Linked DNA regions of Homo sapiens. The protein of the gene in region 1 interacts with the protein of each later gene in a pairwise test. Each region holds a gene or a part of one and is shown in the gene's direction. Other genes may lie near its edges.

What was found.
Region 2: the proteins of ELOVL5 (region 1) and HMOX2 interact in binary tests that used the Homo sapiens proteins (3 or more experiments, as listed by UniProt).
Region 3: the proteins of ELOVL5 (region 1) and SLC39A9 interact in binary tests that used the Homo sapiens proteins (3 or more experiments, as listed by UniProt).
Region 4: the proteins of ELOVL5 (region 1) and SYNJ2BP interact in binary tests that used the Homo sapiens proteins (3 or more experiments, as listed by UniProt).

Annotation. Positions count from the first base shown.
Region 1 is NC_000006.12:53,268,440-53,276,636, reverse strand, and holds part of ELOVL5 (very long chain fatty acid elongase 5), read left to right. Parts: intron 1-380; coding exon 381-458; intron 459-1,375; coding exon 1,376-1,547; intron 1,548-3,292; coding exon 3,293-3,417; intron 3,418-5,909; coding exon 5,910-6,044; intron 6,045-7,366; coding exon 7,367-7,510; coding exon of another isoform or gene 7,511-7,524; 3' UTR 7,525-8,197. UniProt on the Homo sapiens protein: Catalyzes the first and rate-limiting reaction of the four reactions that constitute the long-chain fatty acids elongation cycle.
Region 2 is NC_000016.10:4,478,679-4,486,875, forward strand, and holds part of HMOX2 (heme oxygenase 2), read left to right. Parts: intron 1-585; exon of another isoform or gene 586-883; intron 884-3,085; exon of another isoform or gene 3,086-3,201; intron 3,202-4,958; exon of another isoform or gene 4,959-5,076; intron 5,077-8,197.
Region 3 is NC_000014.9:69,456,997-69,463,392, forward strand, and holds the end of SLC39A9 (zinc transporter ZIP9), read left to right. Parts: intron 1-1,366; coding exon 1,367-1,597; 3' UTR 1,598-4,700; coding exon of another isoform or gene 4,701-4,706; 3' UTR 4,707-5,394; downstream 5,395-6,396. UniProt on the Homo sapiens protein: Transports zinc ions across cell and organelle membranes into the cytoplasm and regulates intracellular zinc homeostasis. Participates in the zinc ions efflux out of the secretory compartments.
Region 4 is NC_000014.9:70,413,347-70,422,313, reverse strand, and holds the start of SYNJ2BP (synaptojanin-2-binding protein), read left to right. Parts: upstream 1-5,223; 5' UTR 5,224-5,350; coding exon 5,351-5,414; intron 5,415-8,967. Other genes in the region: SYNJ2BP-COX16 protein, read left to right, coding at 5,351-5,414. UniProt on the Homo sapiens protein: Regulates endocytosis of activin type 2 receptor kinases through the Ral/RALBP1-dependent pathway and may be involved in suppression of activin-induced signal transduction.

The DNA of each region.
Region 1 (8,197 bases):
GAGGAGCACTGGCTTAGGGAAAGCAGCCAGAGGCTTCTGTGGGGCAGAGCAGGGAGCCTGTGATTGGCTTGGTCTGGGCACTTGTGCTAGGACCAAGGGGGTGACGGGCTGAGGGTTCTGCAGAGAAGCAGCGTGGTAAAGGAAGGTCTCTGAGGGCAGCAGCCTGGGAGTGACTTTTAAGCCCACCCCTTAGGAAATTGAGACTCAAGTCATTAAAGCTTTCCTTTTGTTTACACTTGCCTACAATTGTTTTTTCTCAGAGCAAACTTGGCTCAGCACAGCCCAAGGTAAATTATCACAGATTCTGCAACTAATAAAGTTCAATGAGGACTTTACATGGCTCAGATGCTGTTGGTGACTGGCTCTTTCTTCTTTTTTAGTTAGTAACAGGAGTATGGGAAGGCAAATACAACTTCTTCTGTCAGGGCACACGCACCGCAGGAGAATCAGATATGAAGGTACTGTCTCTTTTTCAGAAACTTTATTATTATAAGTGTTGAGTTTTTAAAAATAAATTGTATAAAATACAAAATGGCCCATAACCTCACTGCCCAGGCAATCCCTGTTGATATTTTTAAAAGAATAAAAAAGGCAATATATACACATCAAATTAAAATTTGAATGTGAAAGGTATAAAATAAAACCTAAAGCATCCCCCTCTGTAAAAATAACTCCGGTTAACAATTGGCAGGAAAAATCACATGCAGTCAGTATGTTATATTTACACAATCAGGATCATAAGAGCAATGTCTTAAATTTTTAAAATCATTCATCCAAGTACTTTTTTCCGAGTAGTGGTGTTAAAAATAAAATCTGACTTCCACTCATGAGGTTTGTTTTAAATCACAGGCCAACAGTCGCAGCTCAGCATGGGCAGTCATCTCCTTAGAGCACTTGTTTGACATGTTTAATTGGGCAGAGACCTGACACTGCAGGTTCTGATTCCTTTTCTTCTGTGTCACTTATCAGGTCGGCTGCTCCATGTTAGTCCCTGAAATCAATAGCGTTTTTCAGATGGTTTTCCTTTGCTAATGGCTGTGCAGGCTGCTTCCAGAGGGAATAGGCAGACTTCAAGGTTTTGAACCTTGAGCCTCATGTTTTTGTTAGTCTCAAAGAGTGTCAGGGACCCTTTCAAAAATATTCCCTGTAGTCATTTCAAACCCCTCCAGCTGTCCCAACCCAATCATGTTCTTTGGTTAAAGGTACTTGGAGAGTGACCATAGCTCCCAGCCACTGATGGACATTAAGAGCTCTTGGGGCACTCGGGCTTCTCCGAGTTGACATCAGATTTTTGGATATTAGTGAAACATGTCAGAGGTGATATTCCAGAGAAGCCGTGAGGATAAGCCTTAAATCTTTGACCCTTTCCTCTTAGATTATCCGTGTCCTCTGGTGGTACTACTTCTCCAAACTCATAGAATTTATGGACACTTTCTTCTTCATCCTGCGCAAGAACAACCACCAGATCACGGTCCTGCACGTCTACCACCATGCCTCGATGCTGAACATCTGGTGGTTTGTGATGAACTGGGTCCCCTGCGGCCACTGTAAGTATTAGAGACGGGGACTTGGGGAACAGGTGTGAGCAGGGAGGAGAGTTGAAACTAAGGCTTTCAGAAAAGGTGCTGTTTCTGTAAATGTCTAGGTCAGGCTTTCAGCTTTGTGTTCAAGTTGCTTTTAATGATAGTTTATGTACCTATGCACACAAAACCCTTTTTTAGTTAAGTGAACTTTCTGTGCTGATTGGGTGAGATGAGGGAGATACCACTGGGGACATATTAAGGAATAGGTACAATATTCTCTGACTTAGAGGGCAACTTTCCAGGTTCTTTCTGGTCCTTCTGTATGGTGTGGAAGGTTTGAGACGGGCAGGTGAGGAAAATAGGATCACACTGTTGCATGAGTACCAGGGAGCAAGGCTCATTTTGAAATACAGCTTTAGCTGTCATGCATTAGGAAGTCTCCACATGTTCTAACAACCCTCATATTCCCTGAAGCATGGTGATCAAGGTGTCTTCTATAACGAGCACCAAAACTTGATATAAATTTTCTAAGGTTGTACTTGGTTTTTGGAAAGCTTGTAGTCCAAAGTTTCTTATAATTTTCAGAGATTGCCACCTTCAGATTCAGCCTGGGAGTTTTAGCAAATGTCTCAGTCAAAAGTCCCGTCATCCAAACACTGAAGAATTTAACTGAGAACCTATGGGTCTATTTATGGATATTTTTTTCTCTGGGATAGCACTGCCCTTGATTACCTGAGCCTGCTAAGATTCACAGTGTCATGGAATTCCAGAGCTAGGAAAAAAAAAAAGCTTTCCAAATACAGATCCTTTGGGTTTGGGAGGAAACTAAGACCACAGAAAGGTGGGTAGAGTTGGGGCTTTCTGCTCTTCCTCCCACTGTCAGAGCTCATGATGGTGGATTAACTGACCTAACTTTCTAATAGAAACAGCCCCTCCCTACATTTGAAGAGTGCTTTAAATTTTCAGAGAACTTTCAGGAGGACAGATTTAATCAGCTCCACTTGGGCCATGAGAAACTGAACCAGGGAATGGATGTGATGTGTCCAAAGTCAAAAGCCAGTTCCTATCATAGCCAGGAGTAGAAACTTCCCTAACACCAGGCTGTGCACCTGCAACTGCACAGGGAAAAGCCAGATGGCTTGGTTTGGTTGCTGACTGTTGGGGAGGAGGACAGAGTCTGGAAAAAGAACTAGTGGTCCTACTGAACATTGAAAATGATGTGATAAGATGGCTCTTTTATCTCTAAGGAGCTAGACTCTTGACTCTATTATTAATAAAAATGTATGACCTCAGCACTGCAGTCCTGGGAAATAATTAGAAGATGGCTTCAGAGACCTCTCCACACCCCAGCAAATGTATAGAAACAACCATTTTTGAGCATATTGCCCATCAGCTGTCTTCCACAGCCTTCAGAGAGCATATTTGGGCAGTTGTGCATGTAAAGAAAAACAGCTGTCTCTGAGAGTGGGTGGGCATCTGCAGCAAAGCCTGTAGGTGCTGGGATGGCGTCGTGGCTTCAGTGTCAGATGCCCCTCTAGCAGCTACAGCTGACCCCTGGGCTCGGAGCCTCCTGGTGGCTGCCTGCCCAAGTGGAAATTGAATTCTCATTACACATCCATGCATTGCTTGCTGTTGCAGTGTTTGTCAGCTCCGTTGGAAGTCATCTCTCTTTCTGATTCAAAAAGAATCTTGTATTTTTTTTTTTTTTACCACCTGTTCTGTTTAAAACACTAATACATTCTCCTTCCCAAATCCCTCTGTTCCTGCAGCTTATTTTGGTGCCACACTTAATAGCTTCATCCACGTCCTCATGTACTCTTACTATGGTTTGTCGTCAGTCCCTTCCATGCGTCCATACCTCTGGTGGAAGAAGTACATCACTCAGGGGCAGCTGGTGAGTGACTTGGCCTCTTTCCCCAGGACTTACTTCCTGGTGGATACAGACCTCTTCCTGGCTTTAGTGTTATGTAATAGCATCTAAGATGCCCCTTCTCCACCCTTTTTCATTTGATGTAATTAAATTCCTTGAAGTGGGTAGATTAGGGAATTTTCTTGTTTTGAACTGATAGTGAACTGTGACCATGGGCATACAGCTAGTTGAATTGTACAAAGAGGTCTAGAATCTAATTTGCCAACTTCAAGTTCAGCTCTTCTGAGTTTTTGCACATAAGCACATATGCATGTATGTGTGTATATGTGTGTGTGTTTTCTAATTATAGTCCAAAATCCAAAATGAAAATTGTATGTTTCCAGGGGTTTTAGAAGGAGCTGGAGAGTAGTATGGAGTCCAGGGTATGTGTAGCCCATTACTAGGCAGCAAGGATATTTGTTTGGCAGGTATGGATGACCCCTCAGCCCCCATGCAGTGGAGCACCTGTTGGTGAGGATGGCAGCTGTTTGCTTCAGTTAACAGCTCCTCCCCTGGTTTACTGCCAGGGCCAGGCCACTTCACCTGATACTTCTCACCATCCTTGATTAAGCCTTCTGCATTCATCAGTATATTATAGGTAACCTCTTTCTCTCCTCTCATGAATTCGTCTATGAACTAATTAATACTACTACTGCTCATATTAAACACTGACATTTCCTAAGTGTTTAGCACATGTTGGGTACTCATACTAAGTACATGATTTTACATAGATTGTTCCAGTAGCCTGATTTCATATTATTGTCCCCAAGCCAGGCACAGTGGCTCACGCCTGTAATCACAGCATTTTGGGAGGTCGAGGCAGGAGGATCACTTGAGGCCAGGAGTTTAAGACCAGCCTGGGGAACATAGTGAGGCCCTGTCTCTACCAAAAAGAAAAACACATATTATTGTCCCTATTTTATAGATGACACTGAGTCAATAGGCCAAAGCTAGCTGACTGAGGGGTGTGGACATTAAACCCTTTGCCCTGTCCTTGCATTATTAACACATTTTTCTAAACACACCAAGCTGATTCAGATCCCTTCAAGTCAATTATGATTTTTCAATATTTAAAAATAACAATCTGAAAAAAAAGTCTGAGAAAATCTTAGAGACTGAAGTGTTTGATGTTTCATTTTCACCTCTCTGCCAGCTGCTATATGGTCCTTGTTAATTTTTTCTCACCCACCTGTGAAAAAGGAAAATTGTTGATTAACCTCCTTGTTATACTTGAGGAGAAATGATGCAGAAATTGATTTATACCACAGTTTTGGGTCTGGCGGAAGCAGAATTTAAAAGAACAGACTGGCAAAGTTGGTCTCCCGTTAGGCTCTGTACTTTGAGGTGGAAGATTAAACCTACCCAGGTTGTCAGGATTTATTTTAAGCACCACTCCTAGTTATTCCTCAGTCTGCAGTACTAACCTTAAAAAAGAGAAGGCAAACAGCCAGGCACAGTGGGTCATGGCTTGGAGTCCCGGTCACTCGGGAGGCTGAGGTAGAAGGATCTCTTGAACCTGAGAGTTTGAGGCCACCCTGGGCAACATAGACCCTGTCTCAAAAATTAAAAACAAAAAACTCTACATAGAAACATTGGAGCTGCTAGAAATACAGTGTGCAGAGCCTAGCCCTTTTTTTGGGGGGAGGGGCAGGGGTTGAGCTGGAGTCTCGCTCTGTCACCAGGCTGGAGTGCAGTGGCGCGATCTCGGTTCGCTGCAACCTCTGCCTCCTGGGTTCAAGCAATTCTCCTATCTCAGCCTCCCAAGTAGCTGGGACTACCGGCGTGTGCCACCATACCCAGCTAATTTTTGTATTTTTAGTAGAGACAGGGTTTCACCATTTTGGCCAGGATGGTGTTGATCTCTTGACCTTGTGATCCGCCAGCCTCGGCCTCCCAAAGTGCTGGAATTACAGGCGTGAGCCACCACGCCCGGCCTGAGCCTAGCCCTTTTTAAAACATCTTTCCACCATTTCTCTAACCAGTTCACATGCGTTTCAAGGTTTATTCATCAAAATTAATCAATGCACTTAGTGTTGTTTGCCAGTAAAGGTTTAAATCTACTCATCAGCCTTCACCAAACCAGAAGCGTCCATGGATAAGGAGTTGGAAGGATGTCCAGCCAGGTGGCACATCCTGCAGTGATGTTATCAGTGCCCTTTCAACATACACACTTGCTCTTCCTTCTCAAAAAATAAAAACAAAAAGTCTTGGATGTCTCTATAGTGTATCCTTGAAATTTGGAGAAGGTAGTTTAAATAGCTTGGAGGGCAGAGGAAGAATATATATAAGACAAACACACCTAGAGTTTAGGATAAGTATAGTGTATGTGTTGTGTTCATGAAGTGACTGCTGTACCTGCAGCAAGGGTAGTAAGTGTTAATTCAGAAATTTAGGTGATGCTGGTTAAAAAGTCTGCCTGGTGTGGGGCCTCGTCCATGCACTGTCCCTGTTCAGCTGCATCCCCTCTGTTCCCCTAGCTTCAGTTTGTGCTGACAATCATCCAGACCAGCTGCGGGGTCATCTGGCCGTGCACATTCCCTCTTGGTTGGTTGTATTTCCAGATTGGATACATGATTTCCCTGATTGCTCTCTTCACAAACTTCTACATTCAGGTAAATCTCACCCTTCTCTGGGACTTGGAATCTGGGGCCTTTACCAACAAAGGCCCTCATCTATTTACTTAATGGGCATGTGGAGCCCTTGCTGGGTGACAGGCTCTGGCCTCTAATGGAGTCACTATGACAAGAGCAGCCCCTGCCTCTGGGGGGCTCACAGCTCACTGGAAGACACTAGAATCCTGTTCTAGAGCCTGGGTGAGGAAGTCTTGGGATTCCCCTGGGAAATGGAAAACTGTGCAGCAGGACCCTATGTTGCTTCCCTCTGACCTGCAGCAGAGACGTGAGAGGTGATTTCAATCAGAAATCTCTCAGTTCACTACCCTGAACGTCATGGCCAAATGAAATTTCAGAAGAGATTTTTATCACAGTCCTCAGATATGGAGATCTGCTTTTTTGTCCCAGCTTTCTTATACATTCAGTCTTCAGGTGTGAGGATTCGGTTCATTCCTAAGCATATGATGTGGTGATGTAGGTCTTTGCTCACAGAAAGATCCATTTAGGGCAGATAATTTCCAGTGGAGCCTGACCACGTTGCAGCCACTGCTGATTCTCCTGCCATGCGTCACCCCCCAGATGACATGTGTCCTGCCTTTGTTGCCAGTGCCTGGTAGCCATAAGGCCTGCTGATCTGGGCAAAACACGGAGGTCAGGAGCAAGGGCAGAGGCTGCAAGTCCCGAGGCTCAGACATTTGTCCTTTCTTCTTCTGTGCCCACAAGCACCTGTGTGTGGCATGTTGAGTTTCAGTGGAAGTCATATACTTCTGGGCTTCATAGTTTATGGCTGCACTGTGGGACATACACCAGCTACAAGGAAGGTGAAAGGATAGGACCCGATGAAGCTGAAATCACATTTATTCTAACTACTTATAGCAGCATAGCACTTTGTTCATGAAGGCTGAGATAGTCGCCGAGGCAGTGAGGAACTTTTGAAGACGAACAAGGGATGTGGGTGTCAAGAGAGCTGCTGCCAGGTGGGAAAGACCAATTTGGCCACATAACCCCTGTCATCTGCCATCCAGATACTAAAAGGCAAAGCAAAGTGTAAATTGAATTTTCTATGTGACATTTTAAATAGTATTTCTGTTGCAGCCTGTGATTCAGTTAACTTACCTCAGGCTAAGCCTCAAAAAAAAAAAGGAAGAATGATTGAAACCAGTGACAAAAGATTTAGTCAATGAGGACTTGACCTCAGGAGTTTCTCCTTGATAAGATTTGATCTTGAAACTAGGCCTAGTGTTAGGGATGCAATTCTCAGTAAAGTTCCCTATAAAGAAAACTGTGGTCATTTGGTTCTCATCTGCCCTTACACATTTTAGACCTACAACAAGAAAGGGGCCTCCCGAAGGAAAGACCACCTGAAGGACCACCAGAATGGGTCCATGGCTGCTGTGAATGGACACACCAACAGCTTTTCACCCCTGGAAAACAATGTGAAGCCAAGGAAGCTGCGGAAGGATTGAAGTCAAAGAATTGAAACCCTCCAAACCACGTCATCTGATTGTAAGCACAATATGAGTTGTGCCCCAATGCTCGTTAACAGCTGCTGTAACTAGTCTGGCCTACAATAGTGTGATTCATGTAGGACTTCTTTCATCAATTCAAAACCCCTAGAAAACGTATACAGATTATATAAGTAGGGATAAGATTTCTAACATTTCTGGGCTCTCTGACCCCTGCGCTAGACTGTGGAAAGGGAGTATTATTATAGTATACAACACTGCTGTTGCCTTATTAGTTATAACATGATAGGTGCTGAATTGTGATTCACAATTTAAAAACACTGTAATCCAAACTTTTTTTTTTAACTGTAGATCATGCATGTGATTGTAAATGTAAATTTGTACAATGTTGTTATGGTAGAGAAACACACATGCCTTAAAATTTAAAAAGCAGGGCCCAAAGCTTATTAGTTTAAATTAGGGTATGTTTCAAGTTTGTATTAATTTGTAATAGCTCTGTTTAGAAAAAATCAAAGACCATGATTTATGAAACTAATGTGACATAATTTCCAGTGACTTGTTGATGTGAAATCAGACACGGCACCTTCAGTTTTGTACTATTGGCTTTGAATCAAGCAGGCTCAAATCTAGTGGAACAGTCAGTTTAACTTTTTAACAGATCTTATTTTTTTATTTTGAGTGCCACTA
Region 2 (8,197 bases), on another chromosome or scaffold:
CACTTGAACCTGGGAGGCAGAGGTTGCGATGAGCCAAGATTGTGCCACTGCATTCCAGCCTGGGCAACAGGAGCAAAACTGCATCTCAAAAAAAAAAAAAAGAAAGAAAGAAAATTAGAATTGTGTATTTCACTGTAAAATTTGAAATTCAGCTTTAACTCCTTGGAAAGGAAAGAGATGAAAAACTTGACCTAGACTGGGTGCGGTGGCTCACGCCTGTAATCCCAGCACTTTGGGAGACCAAGGCGGGTGGATCACCTGAGGTCAGGAGTTCGAGACCAGCCTGGCTAACATTGTGAAACCCCGTCTCTACTAAAAATACAAAAATTAGCCTTGCAAAAAGTAGCCTGTAATCCCAGCTACTCGGGAGGCTGAGCAAGGAGAATTGCTTGAACCTGGGAGGCAGAGGTTTCAGTGAGCCAAGATCATGCCATTGCACTCCAGCCTGGGCGACAAGAGCAAAACTTCATCTCAAAGAAAAAAAAATTCTATCAGAGTGAACAATAAGTAGGATGCTAGCACATACCTGTAATCTCAGCTACTTGGGAGGCTGAGGCAGGAAGTTAATACTTGATGAGCCTAAGTTTTTGGTGTCTTTGGATGCTGCTTGTCGATCTAAGGGGTTTCCAAACGCTTCTTTTTTGGTAAAATTGGGATTATGACTAGGAATCTGTTTTTTGGAGTTTCCCAGGTGATCCTTGTTTGGGGTCCTTGTCTAAGGCACAGGCTGGAAAGAGGAGGGAGTGGACTGGCAGGGAAGATAGAGCAGTAAGCGAATAGAATACCTGGGGAAAGGGACGCCAGAAGAGTGATTGTTGTCTGGTGAACTGTGCTGTCAGTGTGTATGTCAGAAGCCAACAAAGTGGATATTCTCTTCACTCAGCTTAGGGAAAAAATTAATTTTTGTTTCACAGATAGATTCGTTTCCTTCCCAGGAGTATTATAGGCCTAATTACTGTCATAGTTCTCAGTAACTTTAAAAAGGCTGTGGGGAAGAATGGCATAACAGACTAGTATCTTGTACCCAGCCTGCCTTTTTCTTATTCTATTTTTTTTTTTTTTTTTTTTTTTTTTTTTTTTGAGACAGTCTTGCTCTGTCACCCAGGCTGGAGTGTGGTGGCACAATCTCAGCTCACTGCAACCTCCGCCTCCTGGGTTCAAGCGATTCTCCAGCCTCAGTCTCCTGAGTAGCTGGGATTACAGGCGTATGCCACCATGCCTGGCTAATTTTTGTATTTTTAGTAGAGATGAGGTTTCACTATGTTGGCCGGGCTGGTCTCCTACTCCTGACCTCAGGTGATCCGTCCACCTTGGCCTCCCAAAGTGCTGGGGTTATAGGCATGAGTCGCTGCGCCCGGCTTTTTTATTTTTTATTTTTTATTTTTTTGAAACAGAGTCTGGCTCTTTCACCCAGGCTGGAGTACAGTGATCTGATCTGAGCTCACTGCAATCTCTGCCTCTGGGGTTCAAGCAGTTCTCCTGCCTCAGCCTTCCAAGTAACTGGGACTACAGGCATGCACCACCATGCCTGGCTAATTTTTGTACTTTTGGTAGAGATGGGGTTTCGCCATGTTGGCCACGCTGGTCTCCAGCTCCTGACCTCAAGCGAACCACCCTCCTTGGCCTCCCAAAGTGCTAGTATTACAGGCGTGAGCCACAGCACCCGGCCTTTTTTTTTTTTTTTTCCTTAGAGTCTTGCTCTGTCACCAGGGCTGGAGTGCAGTGGCGCCGTCTCGGCTCACTGCAACCTCTGCCTCCTGGGTTCAAGTGATTCTCCTTCCTCAGCCTCCCTAGTAGCTGGGATTACAGGTGTGTGCCACCACACCCAGTTAATTTTTGTATTTTTAGTAGAGACGGGGTTTCACCATGCTGGCCAGGCTGGTCTCAAACTCCTGACCTCAAGTGGTCCACCCACTTTGGCCTCCCAATTAGAATTAGAGGTGGAGCGACCGTGCCCGGCTAAGGGCCTACTATTTTTTTTTTTTTTTTTTGAGACAGAGTTTCACTCTTGTCACCCAGGCTGGAGTGCAGTGGTGTGACCTTGGTTCACTGCAACTTCCACCTCCCAGGTTTAAGCGATTCTCCTGCCTCAGCCTCTGGAGAAGCTGGGATTATAGGCGTCTGCCACCACGCCTGGCTAATTTTTTGTATTTTTAGTAGAGACGGGGTTTCACCATGTTAGTCAGGCTGGTCTCAAACTTCTGATGTCAGGTGATCCACCTACCTCGGCCTCCCAAAGCATTGGGATTACAGGCGTGAGCCACCGCGCCCGGCCAGGCCTCGTATTTTTGCTTTTGCTCATGTTTTCATGTCTGAGATAGAGGGCCTACTATTAAAGCACTGTGCTGAGGCTGCAAGAAGGTACTAGTGTGATTAAAACAATCTGGTCCGGGCGCGGTGGCTCGCACCTGTAATCCCAGCACTTTGGGAGGCGGAGGCGGGCGGATCACGAGGTCAGGAGATCGAGACCATGCTGGCTAACACGGTGAAACCCCGTCTCTACTAAAAAATACAAAAAAAATTAGCCGGGCATGGTGGCGGGCGCCTGTAGTCCCGGCTACTCGGGAGGCTGAGGCAGGAGAATGGCGGGAACCCGGGAGGCGGAGCTTGCAGTAAGCAGAGATCGCGCCACTGCGCTCCAGCCTGGGAGACAGAGCGAGACTCCGTCTCAAAAAAAAAAAAAAAAAGAAAAAAATAAAACAATCTGGCATTATAATGCCATCCTGATTTTAGTTAATCTAGTTGACTGGCTGGCCTCATAAGTAGCTGTGATGATCATAATTTTTATGCGAAACACCTGTCATTGAGCATACAGGTGTACTGAAAGAATTGGGTGGAACAGGGTATTTGAAATCAGAATTGTTCTGGAAAGTCGGGTACATAAAGCTCTATCTTTAGCACAGTTGTCTGTATTGCACAATTAATATTTATAGAATGGTACACCTTATGTTATCTTTTTATTTTTCCACCTAACTCTCTCTCTAGATTGAAAGGTACTTGACGTGCAGAGCAAGATCTTATCTTTCTTTGTAGTCACAGTACTCAAGAGGGTGATAAATGTTTGTTGATGATAATGTAATGTCACCTGTCCAAGTGTAGCCATCATCTTCAGTAGTTACTTGATCTGCTGTTGTGTCTGGCAAGACTGCTATGTGCTGCTGCAGAGGAGCCATTGTCACCTTGAACTATCTCTGTGGCAGTCTGGAGGAGGGCAGGAGGGAGAAGGGAAGGAATAAATGAGCAAAGCTGAGTGTGGATAGTAGTGTTTGACGGCAGATGAAAAAGCAAACTTGGTGAAGTGTGGCCTGGGTGGTCATCTAACTTCTACCTAGAAGACATTAAACCTTTACTCTCTTCTTTTTATGTAGGAAGGCAGAGGGAAAGTCAGGCCTTCGGTTGGCTTGGTAATAGCAGGTATCCCAGTAATTAGAAAATAACTTAAAAAACTCCATTCCTCTACCATATACTTGAGAATTTGTCAATCTCAGCAAAATTTTCAAATGTCTGTGTTCAGTGTCATATTTGTCCTGCTCTGTAAGACTTTTTGTGTTTATAAAAAGGCAAGTGGACCCAGAAGGGGAAAAATATGCTGTTCTGAGAAACTAGCTGCTGTAGGTTATGCTTTTCTGTCTTTGCTTGTGGCTCTTCTGGTTATTTGAGAAAGGCAAAAAAACCCAAAGTCTTTTTTCTACTCTGTTCCCACAGTCACTCAACACAACACTTCTGATACCAGATATATGGGAGTTGTTTCCCCATACACCAAGCAATTCTCTAGTAGACACACCGGTGCGGTGTCCTCTAAGTCAGTTAAATTCTGATACTCTATCTGGAGATAGCGTCAGATCCCACCAATTGAGGGCTCAGTCCCACAAAACTGTCCCAACTTGAGGCACTAGTCACAAGTAGTAAATTGTCACCTATACTTCTGACCTACTAGCTATAAATCGAAAGTTCTGACAATCCCTCCTCGAGTTTGATTAATCTGCTAGAGTGGGTCACAGAACTCAGGAAAACACTTTACTTACATTTACCAATTTACTCTAAAGGATATTAAGAAGGATACAGATGGCTGGGCGTGCTGGTTCATGCCTGTAATCCCAGCACTTTGGGAGGCCAAGGAGGGCAGATCACCTGAGGTCAGGAGTTTGAGACCAGCCTGACCAATGTGGTGAAACCCCATTTCTAGTAAAAATACAAAAAAATTAGCCGGGTGTGGTCGTGCATGCCTGTAGTCCCAGCCACTAGGGAGGCTGAGGCAGGAAAATCGCTTGGACCCTGGGGGCAGATGTTGCAGTGAAATGAGATCACGCCACCGCACTCCATCCAGCCTGGGCGACAGACTGGAAGAAAAAAAAAGGATACAGATGAATAGCCAGATGGAAGAGATGTATAGGGTGAGGCATGTAGGAAGAGGCATGAAGCTTCTACGCCCTCTCTGGAACTTTCGTGTATTCAGCTATCCTGAAGCTAATGCAAACCCTGGTGTGTGTGTGTGTGTGTGTGTGTGTGTGTGTGTGTGTGTGTGTGTGTGTGTGTGTGTGTGTGTTTATGGAGGCTTCATTACAAAGGCATAATTGAATACGTTATTGGCCACTGGTGATCAACTCAACCTTTAGACCTTCTCCCGTCCCCTGAGGTTAAGGGGGTAGGGCTGAAAGTTCCCACCCTCTAATCACATGGTTGGTTCCCCAGGCAATCAGCCCCCATCTAGGAGCCCACCAAGAGTTACTTACTTACAACAAAAGATGCTCCTATTACCCAGGAAATTCCAAGGGATTTAGGAAATTACAAAAGTTTTAGGAGCTCTGTGTCAGGAACTGAGGTTAAAGACCAATATCAGAATGAAGGATTCTCCTAGTGCCCCCATCTACAAAGGTTTTAGGAGCTCTGTGCCAGGAACCTAGGGTGCAGATCAAATATATCTATAAATCTTTTTGTTTGTTTGTGTTTTGAGACAGAGTCTTGCTGCGACACCCAGGCTGGAGTGCAATGGCGCTATCTCGGCTCACTGCAACCTCCGCTTCCCGGATTCAAGCGATTCTCCTGCCTCAGCCTCCCGAGTAGGTGGGACTACAGGTGTGCGCCACTATACCTGGTTAATTTTTGTATTTTTAGTAGAGACGGGGTTTCACCATATTAACCAGGCTGGTCTTGAACTCCTGACCTCAAGTGATCTGCCCACCTCAGCCTCCTGAAGTGCTGGGATTACAGGCATGAGCCGCTGCATCCAGCCTCAAATTTATCTCTGTATCTTCTTCTAAATTACAGTATCACACCCGTGCATATGCCCAAAAATTTTTTTTTTTTTTTTTTTGAGACGGAGTCTTGCTCTGTCGCCCAGGCTGGAGTGCAGTGGTGCGATCTCGGCTCACTGCAGGCTCCGCCTCCCAGGTTCACGCCATTCTCCTGCCTCAGCCTCCCGAGTAGCTGGGACTACAGGCTCCCGCCACCATGCCCGGCTAATTTTTTGTATTTTTAGTAGAGACGGGGTTTCACCGTGTTAGCCAAGATGGTCTCAATCTCCTGACCTCATGATCCACCCACCTTGGCCTCCCAAAGTGCTGGGATTACAGGCGTGAGCCACTGCACCCGGCCTCATATGCCCAAATTTTAAAGGAGGCACCACATTCAAGTCCAAATGCCTAAAGGTAGAAGGATCAAGAAACAGTAGTATGAGGCCATTTGAGAAGTATATATAGTTATCCCTCAGTATCTGTGGAGATTAGTTCCAGGACCCCTCAAGGGTACCAAGATCCAGGATGCTCAAGTTTCTTTTCTTTTCTTTTTTTTTTTTTTTTTTGAGACGGAGTCTTGCACTGTCACCCAGGCTGGAGTGCAGTGGTACGATTTCGGCTCACTGCAATCTCCACCTCCCGGGTTCAAATGATTCTCCTGCCTCAGCCTCCCGAGTAGCTGGGATTACAGGTGTGCACCACCACGCCTGGCTGATTTTTGTATTTTTAGTAGAGGTGAGGTTTCACCATATTGGCCAGGCTGGTCTCGAACTCCTGACTTCAGGTGAGCCGCCTGCCGCGGGCTCCCAAAGTGCTGGTATTACAGGCATGAGCCACTGTGCCCAGCTTAAGTTTCTTATATAAAATGGTGTATAGAATTTGCATATAACCTATGCATATCTTCTGTATTCTTTAAATCATCTGTATTTATAATACCCAATACAGTGCTATGTAAATAGTTGTTATACTGTATCGTTTAGGTAATCATGACAAGAAAAAAAATCTGTACATGTGTAGTACATATGTAGCCATCTGTTGTTTTTTTTTTCCCTGAAGATTGATTGGTTGATTGAGACGGCATCTCACTCTGTCACCGAGGCTGGAGTGCAGTGGCGCAGTCTTGGCTCACTGCAACCTCCACCTCCTGGGTTCAAGCGATTCTCTTGCCTTAGCCTCCCGAGTAGCTGGGATTACAGGTGCCTGCCACAACCCCCGGCTAATTTTTATATTTTTAGCAGATTCCGGGTTTCACCATGTTGGCCAGGCTGATCTCGAACTCCTGACCTTAAGTGATTCACCCACCTCCACGTCCCAAAGTGCTATGATTACAGGGGTGAGCCACCATGTCAGGCCTTTTTCTGAATATTTTTAATCTGAGGTTGGTTGAATCCACTGATGCAGAGCCCATGGATATGGAGGGCTGACTGTACTGTATTGAGCTTCTAAGGTATGCAGAGTATTGGCACTGAGGGGATGTGCAAATACAACAACAAACCAAGCATAGTCTTTGTTTACTAGGAGCTGGTAGTAACTGTGGGAAGACACAAAACAGTAAAATCACTTTGTAAGGTTTATGAGAGTTTTGAGAGGCCAGGGAAGTTAAAGAGTGGAGAAATGGAGAAAATGGGAGAACTTGTACTGAACCCATTAGGACAGAGGAGGAAGGGAAGAGAAGGAAGGAGGCCAAAGAAAGAAGAAACCCTTCTTAGAGCACTCAGGGTCTTACTGAAAACTTTACCCATAAAAAGAGAATGTCACTGATAGACTCCTTTTAGAACAGGGATTGATTTTTTTGTTTTTGTTTTTGTTTTTATTTTTGTTTTTGTTTTTGAGAGAAGTCTCGCTCTTGTCCCCCAGGCTTGAGTGCAATGGCTTGATCTCGGCTCACTGCAACCTCTGCCTCCCGGGTTCAAACAATTCTCCTACCTCTGCCTCCCAGGTAGCTGGGATTAAGGCACCTGCCACCACGCCCGGCTAATTTTTGCATTTTTAGTAGAGACAAGGTTTCACCATGTTGGCCAGGCTGGTCTCGAACTCCTGACCTCAGGTGATCCACCCACCTCAGCCTCCCAAAGTGCTGGGATTACAGGCTTGAGCCACCATGCCTGGCCACAGGCAACATTTTTAAACCATACGATTGTCCTGGAGAGAGAATCTGAAGCCTTGCTCTGATTCTGAAAGGGATTTGCAACCAAAAAAGGATAAGGATTGTTCTGACAAGTACCCTTTCTTCCCATCTTCAAAAGTACACATCTCTTAATTTGTGTCTTCAAACACAAATTGTGTTCAAAAAAGGAAGTATTTGAGTAGATTAAAGACAGAAACCCTAGGACATTCCTTTGTAAACAAACAGCCTTTTACCAAACACCAACTGTCAAGGGACTTGCCTGAGTACTTGTCCAAAGGACAGCGTGTCCCCATGTGTAGGCAGTGGTCTAATCTGGTTCCTAGGAGAGGACTGCTGAGGCCACAGCAACTTAACTGGCTAGTGTGGGTGAGGCAGAAGTGTTTGAAGCTCAAGGTCTGTCAAGGACAGCTGATTAGAGTATGTCTGTCCCTAATACAGGGTTAGAGCTCAGTACCAATGCTGGGGATGAGGTGAGTTGAAGACACAGAAACTACATGGTTTTTTGGAAGGTCACGAACTTTTCAAGGAACTAGTGGGCAACTGGAAATGATATGTGAAAGAGTAGAGGGAGCTCTGGCCTAGCTGCCAGAAAACTCTGGGCAGGTCAGGTCTGGGAACAGTGGCTAATCCAGGCCCAGCTTCCCACTGTTGATTTGGACATACAGGCCTAAGATAAGAGACCGTGCCCAGAGCCACTGGTCACTTAGCACAGGTAGTGGGAAATGGTAGCCAGCAAATGTTTAATTGAATATCTTATGTCTCCTAGACCACAGCTGAGCAAACTAGGCCAAGCTCAAGGTCCTGAGGGGAATGAGGAGCTGAGCTCAGTCCCTTT
Region 3 (6,396 bases), on another chromosome or scaffold:
GTCAGTTTTTTAACCTTTTGACAGGAAGGTGCTGATAATTCTGGAGACATGGAGTTACTTGCTGCATCTATGGGATGTCCTTTTCTTAAAATTTTAATTAGTTGTCTTAGTCCATAGGTCTACTTTTTTAACAGAAAAGGTTGAAATTAGTTTTATAAAGATTAGCTTATGAGATATACATATATATACACACACACACACACACACACATTTTTTTTTTCCTTTGAGATGGAATCTTGCCTGTCACCCAGGCTGGAGTACAATGGCGCAATCTTGGCTCACTGCAACCTCTGCCTCCCAGGTTCAGACGATTCTCCTGCCCCAGCTTCCGGAGTAGCTGGGATTACAGGCGCCCGCCACCATGCCCGGCTAATTTTTGTATTTTTAGTAGAGACAGGGTTTCACCATGTTGGCCAGGCTGGTCTCGAACTCCTGACCTCGTGATCCGCCCACCTTGGCCTCCCAAAGTGCTGGGATTACAGGCATGAGCCACCACGCCCGGCTGCTTAAGAGATATTTCTAGGCTCTATGAGGTCAACTACTGCATCTTGATTACCACTGTATCTCAAGCACCTGGCCCAGAGCCTGGTGCATAGATGATGCTTGTTAAATATTAGTAGAATAAATAAATTTATGTCTGAAATTTAATATCTGCAATAATATATTGTTGATTCTATCTCAAGAATAATACAAGCCAAACCTGTTGAACCAGCACTTAAAGTTCGTTTTAAAAAGCAATTGTGAACCAGGAGCAGTGGCGCATACCTGTAGTCCCAGCTACTTGGGAAGCTGAGACAGGAGGATTGCTTGAGCCCAGGAGTTCCAGGCTGTAGTGTGTTATGATTGTGCCTGTGAATAGCCACTCAACTCCAGCCTGGGCAACATAGCGAGACCTCATCTCTAAAGACAGATACAGTCAATGAATGGATGGACAGAATGATGGAACTGTGGTGAATATAGTTTAATAATAGTGTGTGGTACATATCAAAATTGCTAAGAGTAAATTTCAGATGTTCTCACCACAAAATATGATAAATATTTGAGATGACAGATGTTAGTTTTATTTAATTAGTCCACATTTTATTCATGAATCATAATGTCACTTTATACCCTATAAATATATATAATTATAAATTGTTGATTTACAATAAATTTTTTAAAAAATCAATTGCGTACATCACTGATATTCTTAAACCCTTATTTGGAAGCTTCCCATGAATAACTTAAAGTTGCTGTGTTCTCTAGATGTCCCCAGTGTCCTAGACAGCACCAGTTAAGAACAGTGAGTGTTTTTTAACTGGGACTTCTTCCTGACCCTGAATTTTACTTGACTTAGTTTTTCCTCTTTCTCTCTTCTAATTCACAGAGCAGTAAAGAAGCCCTTTCAGAGGTGAACGCCACGGGAGTGGCCATGCTTTTCTCTGCCGGGACATTTCTTTATGTTGCCACAGTACATGTCCTCCCTGAGGTGGGCGGAATAGGGCACAGCCACAAGCCCGATGCCACGGGAGGGAGAGGCCTCAGCCGCCTGGAAGTGGCAGCCCTGGTTCTGGGTTGCCTCATCCCTCTCATCCTGTCAGTAGGACACCAGCATTAAATGTTCAAGGTCCAGCCTTGGTCCAGGGCCGTTTGCCATCCAGTGAGAACAGCCGGCACGTGACAGCTACTCACTTCCTCAGTCTCTTGTCTCACCTTGCGCATCTCTACATGTATTCCTAGAGTCCAGAGGGGAGGTGAGGTTAAAACCTGAGTAATGGAAAAGCTTTTAGAGTAGAAACACATTTACGTTGCAGTTAGCTATAGACATCCCATTGTGTTATCTTTTAAAAGGCCCTTGACATTTTGCGTTTTAATATTTCTCTTAACCCTATTCTCAGGGAAGATGGAATTTAGTTTTAAGGAAAAGAGGAGAACTTCATACTCACAATGAAATAGTGATTATGAAAATACAGTGTTCTGTAATTAAGCTATGTCTCTTTCTTCTTAGTTTAGAGGCTCTGCTACTTTATCCATTGATTTTTAACATGGTTCCCACCATGTAAGACTGGTGCTTTAGCATCTATGCCACATGCGTTGATGGAAGGTCATAGCACCCACTCACTTAGATGCTAAAGGTGATTCTAGTTAATCTGGGATTAGGGTCAGGAAAATGATAGCAAGACACATTGAAAGCTCTCTTTATACTCAAAAGAGATATCCATTGAAAAGGGATGTCTAGAGGGATTTAAACAGCTCCTTTGGCACGTGCCTCTCTGAATCCAGCCTGCCATTCCATCAAATGGAGCAGGAGAGGTGGGAGGAGCTTCTAAAGAGGTGACTGGTATTTTGTAGCATTCCTTGTCAAGTTCTCCTTTGCAGAATACCTGTCTCCACATTCCTAGAGAGGAGCCAAGTTCTAGTAGTTTCAGTTCTAGGCTTTCCTTCAAGAACAGTCAGATCACAAAGTGTCTTTGGAAATTAAGGGATATTAAATTTTAAGTGATTTTTGGATGGTTATTGATATCTTTGTAGTAGCTTTTTTTAAAAGACTACCAAAATGTATGGTTGTCCTTTTTTTTTGTTTTTTTTTTTTTTAATTATTTCTCTTAGCAGATCAGCAATCCCTCTAGGGACCTAAATACTAGGTCAGCTTTGGCGACACTGTGTCTTCTCACATAACCACCTGTAGCAAGATGGATCATAAATGAGAAGTGTTTGCCTATTGATTTAAAGCTTATTGGAATCATGTCTCTTGTCTCTTCGTCTTTTCTTTGCTTTTCTTCTAACTTTTCCCTCTAGCCTCTCCTCGCCACAATTTGCTGCTTACTGCTGGTGTTAATATTTGTGTGGGATGAATTCTTATCAGGACAACCACTTCTCGAACTGTAATAATGAAGATAATAATATCTTTATTCTTTATCCCCCTTCAAAGAAATTACCTTTGTGTCAAATGCCGCTTTGTTGAGCCCTTAAAATACCACCTCCTCATGTGTAAATTGACACAATCACTAATCTGGTAATTTAAACAATTGAGATAGCAAAAGTGTTTAACAGACTAGGATAATTTTTTTTTCATATTTGCCAAAATTTTTGTAAACCCTGTCTTGTCAAATAAGTGTATAATATTGTATTATTAATTTATTTTTACTTTCTATACCATTTCAAAACACATTACACTAAGGGGGAACCAAGACTAGTTTCTTCAGGGCAGTGGACGTAGTAGTTTGTAAAAACGTTTTCTATGACGCATAAGCTAGCATGCCTATGATTTATTTCCTTCATGAATTTGTCACTGGATCAGCAGCTGTGGAAATAAAGCTTGTGAGCCCTCTGCTGGCCACAGTGAGGAAAGTAGCACAAATAGGATACAGTTGTATGTAGTCATTGGCAACAATTGCATACAATTTTACTACCAAGAGAAGGTATAGTATGGAAAGTCCAAATGACTTCCTTGATTGGATGTTAACAGCTGACTGGTGTGAGACTTGAGGTTTCATCTAGTCCTTCAAAACTATATGGTTGCCTAGATTCTCTCTGGAAACTGACTTTGTCAAATAAATAGCAGATTGTAGTGTCTGGTTTGGTTTGGACAGTAGTGCTTTCTATCATATTGTTGTGTGCAATGGTAATTTGTTCTACTGGCCAAAGCCTCTTTCAGCAGTGCCTTGCCATCATGCTTAAAAGTTTGGCTAGTATATCTTGCTGGATGGAGCCTTGAACTCCGGCAAGGATTGAACCATCTGACTTCCAAATTTGCCTTCCCCTCTGGACCTCACTATTAACAAGCAAACCTTTCAGGGCCCTCTTAGCTCTCAGAAGCTATGTATGGGCTTTCCCAGATTTTAAAGCTGCTGCCTCGAGAACTACTCATTTCTCTCCTGGTCAGCAGACAGAAATAGCCATACTAATCTCATAGGGCTCAAATGCATCTTCAGGCAGCAGGGAACCAAGCAGCGTGGCACAGGCCTTCTTGACTGGAGGAAGAGCTTGCTGGCATGGTGGGCAGTATTCCAGGAGAGGCCATGTCCGTGTTCACTTCTTGGCACATTTCAGTTCCGTTTTCCTCTTGTTTAAAACTGCCTCTTTAGATGTGGATGCCTTAATGCTGTAACACATTTGAAAACATTGGCAATACTTAAGTTGCTGCCATGATTACAGATGGAATTATTGGCTACCAAAGAGACGCAATTGATGATGAGAAGCATGATTCTTGCTTCCATATAACCAAAGTTAATCTTAATTGCAATTTGACTCCGTTTCCTTGGTAGGGATAGACTTTCTTCAGATTCCAAGTGCTCTCTTAAATGGCAAATTAAGTTAAAGAATACTACTGCTCCATTCCCCTCACTTATTCTCCAGTTAATTGCTTGTCAGTTCCATTTCAAGAAAGCAGTGATGTTCCAGGTTTGATTCAGTTTTCCTGTGCACACTATTGCCAAATTTTTTTTTAGCAAAGATTCTGCACTGGAACGTAGACAGTTGGAAACAGTACTACCTACCTAGAGGTTATGTGTTTTCTCTTTCTCCCCGCTTTCACCTCTTTCTTTCCCAATTCAAAACAGCCAAGTGAGCCCTGTTCTGGTATTTTGAATCATTAGAGAAAAGAAAGGGAGTGGCTGTTTTGAGTTGTCCTTTCTTTGCAGAAAGGAGAAAATGTGATTGTGTTTTTTTTTTACCAGCCTACTTCTAAGTGTCACTGCCTGGTTTTTCTCTTTTTCAAGGATTAGAACTAAGAGGACACACCAGCATCGGAGTGTATTAAGCCCCTGAAACACATGGTAGCTAGGGACTGAACACAGGAACCGTATGACAGCAGCACAAACCCCCAAAGGATGTTCCTGCCTTGTGGGCCCCTGAGCCCCTTGGGAGACTGAGAATCATGACCAGATTCATCCAGAACTGCTGCAGTGTTAAGTGAAAATCCTCTGTAGTTGTTCTGCAGAGGAACCTTCCTTCCATTAGAAAATTTCTGCTCAATACAGAATGGTCCACATCACCCAAAGTGCACTGTTGGAGATGCTGTGAAATTAAAACCTCTTTGTACCTGAGACATCTAGATTCACCTCAGGAGGCCTGAAGGAAATGTGTAACTTGTGGGAAAGAACTAGACAACCATTTAGGAATTCTCTAGATATACTCAGCCTAACCCAGTGGCTTAACACAAGGAGATTGGCTTTGATCTTTTTTTCTTGTGGCATCTTCCAGCAAGTTAGAAGTCTCATGGGATAAGACTGCAGTTCCCCTGGTTCAATAGCTGGAACAGTGATTTTAAATGTCCCTTTTTCTGGATCCCTTGTAAACATGAAATCATTCCATGGATGGCTGCCTTATAATTTTGTCTCTTTCCACTTTAATTGTGAATGGTTAAAAAAATGCTGTTTTCTGATATTAAATTTTTATTAGTGCATACCTTAATCTGAGTGGCTCATTACTTATCCTTTTGGCAGTTTGTTTGATGACCAGAATTGACCTGTATTTGAACATCAGAAAAGAGAATGAAAAGTTGTGATGGATGGTAGAAAGATGTACCTACCACAGGCACATCCTTTAGGGAAGGGAGGGAGAAAGGAGAGAGGGGAAATTAAGGACTTGATAGACCAATCTGCCCTGAAAGACACAAATGCATTGATAATTGTTTTTGCCTTGCTGTTGTTAGCAAATATTATTTACGAAGGTAGCTCTCTCTACTCTCAGAAAAGAGAAAGAGGCAACAGATCCAAACCACAGTGGATTCATTTCATAGGGCAGAGTTGTTATATGAGTAGATAGATGCTATGAACAACTGACCCTGGAAATTAAAGAGATTTGATTAGAAACGTGACGTGTGAATTTGATAAATGTTTTTCTCCCTCTGTGGACTTATGGTTAGTCATTAGATTTCATTAAATACTACTGGCCCACTTTGTGCTGGTTTTCTATATGTATAGTTACATGTATAGCTAGTTACAAAGATTGTGCTCAGGGCAGGCATGGTGGCTCACGCTTGTAATCCCAGCACTTTGGGAGGCCGAAGTGGGTAGATCACCTGAGGTCAGGAGTTCGAGACCACCCTGGCCAACATGGTGAAACCCCGTCTCTACTCAAAATAGAAAAATTAGCCAGGTGTGGTAGGGGGGTACCTGTAAATCCCAGCTACTCGGGAGGCTTCCCTGAGATCAAAACACACACACACCTGGGCTTAGCCAAAATAGCCACCAATCCTTTTCTGTTTGGTGTCATTTTTATTTTATTTTTTCCTGCTCACATGATCTGTTTTTTGTTTGTTTGTTTTTTGAGACAGAGTCTTGCTCTGTAGCCCAGGCTGGAGTGCAGTGGTGTGATCTCAGCTCACTGCAAGCTCCACCTCCCAGGTTCACGCCATTCTTCTGCCTCAGCCTCCCGAGTAGCTGGGACTACAGGTGCCCACCACCACGCCCA
Region 4 (8,967 bases), on another chromosome or scaffold:
GTAATGAATGAGGGAAGGGGGTTGTGGTAGTAGACGAGTTAGAGAGCTTGACAAAAGCCAGATTATCTGGTCTTAGAGGCAATGTTAAGGATATCGATTTTTTTCTACATGAGATGGAAATGACTGAAATATTTAGATTGGGGCATGACATGATCTGATTTACATTTTTGTAAGATTGCTCCAGCTGAGGGAAGAATAGATGGGAGATATCGAGTGAGCAGCAGAAAAAACATTCAGGAAGAACAGTAGAAGTAGAGGCAATACATACTGGTGGTTTGTAATAAGCTGGTAGTATCAGAGATGGTCAGATAGACTGTATTTCATACATAGCAACAGCTATACTTTTGATGGGTTGAATGTAGAATGCAAGGGAAAGAATGGAATCAAAAGCTGTTCTTAAGATATTCATATGAACTGAGTAAACTGAGTTACTCAAGGAAGGGGAACAGCTAAGAGAGGTATCAGTTTAGGGGTATAAGGGTTAGAAATTCTCATTTTATCATAATTTAAGATGCCTGCTAGGCATCTAAATTTTGAGATGTTAGGTAGGCAACTGGGTTACACAAGACTGAAGCTCAGTGAAGAGACATGACAGCTGGCATATTAATGGCATTAGAGCCAGGGGTCTGAATTAGACTTCTTATAAAGATAGCATATATATACAGAAGAATAAAGAGTACCAATCAAAAAGGACAATAGAAGATAAAATAATTGTAAATGCCTTGTGGCTATCTGCTGTCATCAATAGCTGGGGTCAGCAGTGCAACTTGCAGCAAGAACTTGAAAATTAAAGCAATAATACTGCTATCAGGTCTAAACTTTAAAATCAACAAGTAATGGGCCAGAGCAGAGATATGCAATGCCAAAGGCTGTGACTTCACTGTAATCTGTGTTATGGGCTGTGTTGTATGCCTGCAAAATTCATCTGCTGAAGTACCTCAGAATGTAACCATATTTGGAGAAAAGGTCTTTAAAGAGGTAAGTAAGTTAAAATGTGGTCATTACGGTGGGCCCTAATCTAATATGAACGATGTCCTTATAAGAAGAGGAAATTTGGAAACAGACATGTGTGCACACAGAGGAAAGACCATGTGAAGACAGAGGTAGAAGATATGGCCATCTGCAAGCCAAGGAAAGAAGCCTCTGAGGAAACCAACTCTACCTGCACCCTGATCTTGGACTTCCAGACTCCACAGCTGTGAAAAAATACATTTTCATTGTTCAAATTACACAATCTGTAGTATTAGTTACAGTAACATTAACAAACTAATATCGTCTGATTAAATGTAATAATAATACAACAAAGAAAAAAGTGTGTCAATCACAAAAGAGTTTTGTCACCTAAGGAAGCATAGAAAAAATAAAATATGCAGGAATTTGAAACTAAATAGGTAAGGGCAAAAAGTTGGAACAAATGCTATGTCAAAGGAGAGGTGGATAAGTCCCAAATACAAACATATTCATGAGTTGGTCATCAAAGAGGCTGATAGAATAAAATACTGAAGTAGGAGGGGACTGAAGCAGACAAGAGAGATTAAAAAGACAAAGTGAATATATGACAGGAAATGTGCAAAAATAGAGCAAGGTGTGATTAAGGTGAGGCAAGGTTTCCACTAATTTTGTAAATGGTAGATTGAAGTTTCCACTACATTCTACATTTTTTACATAACTCAAGGTCATAAGCAGAAAGGTTAGTTCAGACAGAAAGTGTCACTTCTTGTGTCAGAGACTGCCAGTGGCCTCCCAATATCCATTCTCCCACTTTCAGTTAATAATAATAACCTTGATTTTTATGGTTGGCACATTTCTATCCCTGAGATTACAAGAAGTCTATGACATTTCCAGGAGGTCTTCTTTGCCCTTCCTTCATTACCTTCCTGGAATGTAGATATGATGGTTGAAGTTCCAAAATCCATCTTAAGCATCTTGGACCACGAAGTAAAGTCTACACTCCAGGGGTGAGCCACTGCACCCGGCCTGATTCCATAATTTTTCTCAATTGTTTCCTCTGAGTAGGATCTCATTTTCTCTGTCATTTGCTTTCCTACATATTAAAGCTCCCTCATTTTTTTTTTTAATTTATTTACTTTTATTATTTTTTAGTAGAGATGGGGTCTTGCTCTGTTACCCAGGCTAGAGTGCAGTGCTTCAATCACACCTCACTGCAGCCTCAAACCCCTGAGCTCTAATGATCCTCCCGCCTCAGCCTCTAGAGTAACTGGGACTACAGGCATATCACCACGCCCAGCTAGCTTCCTTGTTCTTCCATTGTTACTGGAAAGGGGTCCTGATCCAGACCCCAACAGAGGGTTCTTCAACCTTGTGCAAGAAAGAATTTGGGGCAAGTCCATAGAGTAAAGTGAAAGCAAGTTTATGAAGAAAGTAAAGGAATAAAGAATGGCTGCTCCATAGGCAGAGCAGCCCCGAGGGCTGCTGGTTGGCTATTTTTATGGTTTTTTCTTGATTATATGCTAAACAAGGGGTGGATTATTCATGAGTTTTAGGGGAAATTGGTGGGCTATTCCTGGAACTGAGGGTTCCTTCCCTTTTCAGACCATATAGGGTAACTTCCTGATGTTGCCATGGCATTTGTAAACTGTCATGGCGCTGGCAGGAGTGTCTTTTAGCATGCTAATGCATTATAATTAGCATATCATGAGCAGTGAGGATGACCAGAGGTCACTTTAATCACCACGTTGATTTTAGTGGGTTTTGGCTGGCTTTTTTACCACATTCTTTTATCAGCAAGGTCTTTGTGACCTGTACCTTGTGCTGACCTATCTCATCCTGTGACTTAGAATGCCTAACTTCCTGGGGATGCAGCCCAGTAGGTCTCAGCCTTATTTTACCCAGCCCCTATTCAAGATGGAGTCGCTCCAGTTCAAAAGCCTCTGACACCATTATTCCTATACTTCTATTAGGGAATAAAGGCAATTTACATATCCCATCTCTCACTCTACTTATTACCAGCATTTCCTCAACTTGTTTAGGATACTTTTTTCTTTCACTGCCCTATGTATTTCTTTTGAAGCTGTGTGTTCAGATGAAAAGGACAATTTTCCCAGGTACTGAGAGGTGATTCCCCCACCACCGTCCCCACAGTGGTCTAAAAGAAACCTTGTGTTTTTTTCCTTACAAATCTCCTCATTGATGATTTCTTGATTTTCCCCCCATTTCTATTTGATCTTTTCTCTCTTGACATTCCAATGTCATTTATTTTATTTTATCTATTTATTTTTTGAGATGGAGTCTTGCTCCGTCACCCAGCGTAGAGTGCAGTGGCACGATCTCCACTCACTGCAACCTCCGCCTCCTGGGTTCAAGTGATTCTCCTGCCTCAGCCTCCCATGTAGCTGGGACTACAGGCCTGCGCCACCACGCCCAGCTAATTTTTTTGTATTTTTAGTAGAGATGGGGTTTCACCATGTTGGCCAGGCTGCTCTGGAACTCCTGACCTCAAGTGATCTGCCCACCTTGGCCTCCCAAAGTGCTGGGATTACAGGTGTGAGCCACCCCGCCCAGCCCCCAATGTCATTTATTTATATTACACATTTTTTTAATTTATCATTCTCTGCCTTTTATAATGATCATTTTATTCACTCATCCAACCAACATATGAAGAGCTACTATCAATCCCATTTTAAGATGGGGAAACAGAGTTCAGAGATGTTGGATTCCTTGCTCAAAGACAGACAAGTTTAAGGGAATGGAATGGAAACTTGAGCCCAAGTTGTAAGTCATAATCTGTGTTATTTCCACTATCCCATCTTTTTTTTTTGAGACAAAGTTTCGCTCTTGTTGCCCAGGCTGGAGTGCAATGGTGCAATCTCGGCTCACTGCAACCTCCGCCTCCCGGGTTCAAGCGATTCTTCTGCCTCAGCCCCCCGAGTAGCTGGGATTATAGGTACCTGCAACCACACCGAGCTAATTTTTTGTATATTTAGTGGAGACAGGGTTTCACCATGTTGACCAGGCTGGTCTTGAACTTCTGACCTCAGGTGATCCACCCGCCTCGGCCTCCCAAAGTGCTGGGATTACAGGCGTGAGCCACTGTGCTCAGCCTCCACTATTCCATCTTAACTTCTCTCAGAGTGAGCAAATAAGAGGTCTTCCTGCCGAATCTGCCCCTATCTCCTTCTGTTTGGTAAACATAGTAGCTGCTGCTTTGGTTTTTTACTCTAAATTTAAATGTCTTTACATTGGCCTTGCACTTTCTAGTCCTCTAAGATCCCCACCAATCCCTGTGGTCTAACTCCAGGTTGCTTCACAAGGTTGTCACCTTCCTGGCTCTTTAGGCTTTTGTGTTTTTGACCCCTGAAGTTTCATTCAAGTTCAGTTTGGAATGTCTCATTCCAAAAGTCAGGAAGACTGGCCTAAAGTTATACCTAAGCCATGCGTTAACCTTATTGTAAGAGTTAAAACATTAAAAAGATTGAATTTTCCCAGTTGCCAAAAGAATGAGACATTCCCCCACCCCCCTTTCTTAAAACATTTTCTTGAGCAAATTGTAATTATAATCCGTGTGTAGTGTGTGTGTGTGTGTGTATCTTTTTAAAAGCTAAATAAGCCTCTTGTCAGATAAAACCCAGGAATTGTTTTCGTCAGGTCCCGGGAGCCAACTCCTTGAAATTTAAGTATCAAGGTAGACAGTGCCCCTATGTTCCAGGCTCGCGGGAGTTACCCGAAGCGCCTTGCTCCAAGCCGTAAGTACCTGTTTGTCACAGAGATAACGTTTTATTTTTCCTTTGGATAAAGGCAATTAACCAACACAGGCGGCCACTCCAACGGTGAACTACCAAAAATTGAATACCAAACCATGTTAACTCGTCTTACATGAGAAGATGCGTGTGCTTTGGCTACATAAAATGTGAGATTTTTGTCTCTCTTTGCAATCTCATTAGTGGATTGCCTGTAACACCCATTCCGGTCTGGTTCGATGCTTACAGAATAATACACCTTTTTTTTCTTTTCTACATTTGTGGAGATTTTCTAGGATGGCAGGAGATTTTTTTAAAATTTTTTTTCTCGACAATATCAATTTATTTAGGTCCCTTACTTTTACTAGCCACCCCCTTCCCACTTGCTTCCAATGGCAAATTAGAATGGTAACTTGCCCCTTGCTCACCTCATGCTTGGCTTTGGGAACCGGTGAGAAACTGCAATCCATTGGCGGTAGGAACCACGATTCCCAGCATTCCCAGTGCTCCGAGTCCTTCGGGCTTCCTTTTCCGGGTCTCGAGGCTGCTGAAACCGAAACCGCTGTGCTGTGGGCGCAGCGCCGAGATTGATTCACCTTCACCTGTGCTGCACTCCAGCTGACCCAAGTAGGAAGCCAGACGAGCTGTAAAACATGAACGGAAGAGTGGATTATTTGGTCACTGAGGAAGAGATCAATCTTACCAGAGGGCCCTCAGGTATGTGCGGAAAGGGTCATATCTGACAGTAGGGGATTAGAGGGTGTAATTGCAGACACCTCTGCTGCTGAGCCGGATTCACCTGGCCTCGGGGCGGGCAGGCCACAACCTAGAGGTTTCGTGCAACGCTTCGGGGTGCTTAGAGAAAATATATTGAAATCCATCATTAGCCAGATACGGGTCTGAGGAATCCACCTCAAAATCCAGTTGGATGAACACAAATATATATAGTCAAGAAGGGGTTCTTTGTGCAAATCGTGCTAGAAAAGCCTTTTTAAAAGCCTGCTTTTTTAGCCTGCTTATCGTGGATACCACATCCTTCTTTCCGTTGCCTGTTCTATCCCTCCCCCTATGAGGGACCGTTTAGTAAAATGGGAGCATAAACGGTGTGGACTCTGAATGCATAGCCGTTTTCCTGCAGCTAGGATCCCTCCCTCGCTCCTTTGATTTCTGGGAACTTCATTTACAATGTCAACTAGAATGTTAAAGCAGGAAGAGCCCTTAGAAATCTTTTATTACACAGGTTCCCAAACTTGGTTCCGCCACAAAATTACCCAGGGCTTTAAAAAAAAAAAAAAAAAAGAAAATAAAAAGTTAAATCTTATCTCCCATCTGCAGGGATTTGGATTTAATACAGATTTATTTTATTTATTTATTTATTTTTTATGAACACCTCATGTGATTTTGAGCAGCCAAACTGCTATCCTCTTCCCCCACTGTGGCTCTTCATTAAACCGGGCTCTTGACATTACTACATTCTGCCTGCTTTCGACTTTGTTTACTTTCCTTTACAACTATTTAGTTGATCAATTAAGAGCTCTTTAGCTTTGGAATTACAGTATCTGGGTCTAAATCTTGTATCTAACCTCTTACTGATTCTTGATACTTATTGGCTAACTTAACTGATGTAAGCCTTAGTTTATCATCTCTAAAATGGGGATGGTTATAAATATACTTCATAGTGTTGTGAGAATGAAATGAGTTAATCCATGTAAAATGTTTACAACATTGCTTGACCTATGGTAAACAGTATGTGTTTCCTACTATTGTTACTGTTAATGGATAAATAGCTAAACTGACACAGTAAATCCTACTAATACTGTATTCCAAGAGTCTCTAATAAATCATCAAGTACTCTGAGCTCCATCTCTGAAATGTTCCTGAAATTCTTTCACTCCTGTTTCCCTTGCCACTACCTAGGACAGTCCATCACCTTTTCTCATCTGCAGTTCTGCAGTAGCTTAATCATGGATAGATTATTCTTTATAAAATATAACTTTCAGAATTATCCATACTTTGTGTCTTCTTTTCTTTTCTTTCTTTCTTTTTCTTTTCTTTTTTTTTTTTTTGAGACAGGGTCTCACTCTGTTGCCCAGGCTAGAGTGCAGTGGCACGATCTCAGCCCACTGCAGCCTCTCCCTCTTAGGCTCAAGCAATCCTCCCACCTCAGCCTCCTGAGTAACCGATACCATGGGTGTGCACTGCCACGCCCGGCTAATTTTTTTGTATTTTTGGTAGAGACGATGTTTCACTACGTTGCCCAGGCTGGTCTCATTTAAACTCCTGAGTTTAAATGATCCACCCACCTCTGCCTCCCAAAGTGCTGGGATTACGGGTGTGAGCCACTGTGCCCTGCCTTCCTTTCTATTATTAAAAATTGGAAGTTGGTTTTACTTATCGGAATATAACTCATCACTAATACCATTATTAATATTTTTTTTTTTTTAGAGACGAGGTCTCACTTTGTTGCCCAGGCTGGTCTTGAACTCCTGAACTCAGGCAGTCCTCCTGCCTTGGCCTTCCAAAGTGCTGGGATTACAGTCATGAGCCATCATGCCTGGCCTATCACTAATCTTAATGGATTAGTGTCATGCTCCATATGTGCGCCTAAACTTTTGTCAAAGGCTCATTTGGTATGCCCAAGTTTCTTGGATTCATTTTTTTGCTATTTTATATAAATGTATCCTTCACTCACTGTTAATATTTATTGACTTTTGAGGCTAACATAGAAAGTTACTTTTCAATCAAAATCTGTTTTTTTGTACTTTTCATCCATTGATAACTTGTTCTCTTAGGACCAATTAAAACAATGCTAGTTCCTTTTCTGATTGCTGTGCAAGTATTTATTTAAAGGCTCTAGTTGTTCTGCTCCTGTTTTGCCTCTTTCTTCTTTATCCTAAATATCTTCGGTTATTTTACTACCTCTTGAGATGTTTGAGATTTGATTCTTGCCTTTTGCTTAAGAATTTAATGTACTTTGACATAGTCCTTTTGCTCTGGCATCCAAAGTATTTTCAGATCTCCTGTCTAAAGCAGAGCAGGACCCTGATATTATCTCTTGTTCTAAAGATGAAATCTTTTTAAAATTCAGTATAATATCACTTCATCTTTTTTGGCATTTGTAGTCATAAATTTCCTAGTGTTAGTATTTTCCCAAAACATTGGCATTCGGACAAGCTTCAAGGACTAATTAAAGGGAATAATTATATCTAGCTAATATATTTCACCCAAAAATGGTTTGATTTCTGTATCACATATTTATTACAAATGAATGTATTTATTCACTCAGTGGCTTCCTAAATTTTCATAAGCATTTCCATGTATTAATTATATAAGTCAGTGAACTTACTGGGAGAGTAAAGCCTCAAGTTTAGGAATGAACTTGGGTGAAAACAGTCATTTGAAATTTGGTTGGTTCAGTTAACAAAGAAAGGTTTCAAGTTCATGTTAATCACTTACCAGAACTGGTTTCCTAGTATGTGATACTCTTCTTCTCAGGGTCTAATTCAGCTTTTCTTCATGGTATCATCATGAAGATATATAGGGAGGAGACTGTCTCAAAATACCACTAGAAACTAATCACCACTAGAAACTTCCACATAATTTTGATGGTCCCATAAGGATCTTTCTATCTATGGAAGAAATATGAAAATCCTCTAAGTATGCATTTCTTTTGTAGGCAGCATTGCCCACTCTTTGTGTTTGTATAGCTGTGTACTCAGGAACCTGATGTTTAATCAGATCCGAGAACATGTGTACCATTCCCCCTTTGTGTTCTGTCAGGGACAAGAATTGTGGATATTTCCAGTGTTTGGGCCCATATTATAAGGCAGTCGAACCTGTTCCTGACTGATCTGCTTACTGCAAGGGAAGTAATGAAATCTTGGGGAAATTATGACAACAGAGTGAAGAGGCAAAAGAAGCTTGACATGTATTAGGTTGGTGCAAAAGTACAATTACTTTCTTTTGTTCTTCTTTTTTTTGAGACGCGTCTCACTCTGTCACCAGGGTGGAGTGCAGTGGCACGATCTTGTCTCACTGCAACCTCTGCCTCCCAGGTTCAAGCAATTCACCTGCCTCAGCCTCCTGTGTAGCTGGGATTACAGGCATTTGCCACCATGCCCGGGTAATTTTTGTATTTTTAGTAGAGACAGGGTTTCACCACGTTGACCAGGCTGGTCTTAAACTCCTGACCTCAAGTGATCCACCTGCCTTGGCCTCCCAAAGTTTTGGGATTACAGGCGTGAGCCACCCCGCCCAGCCATAAGTACCA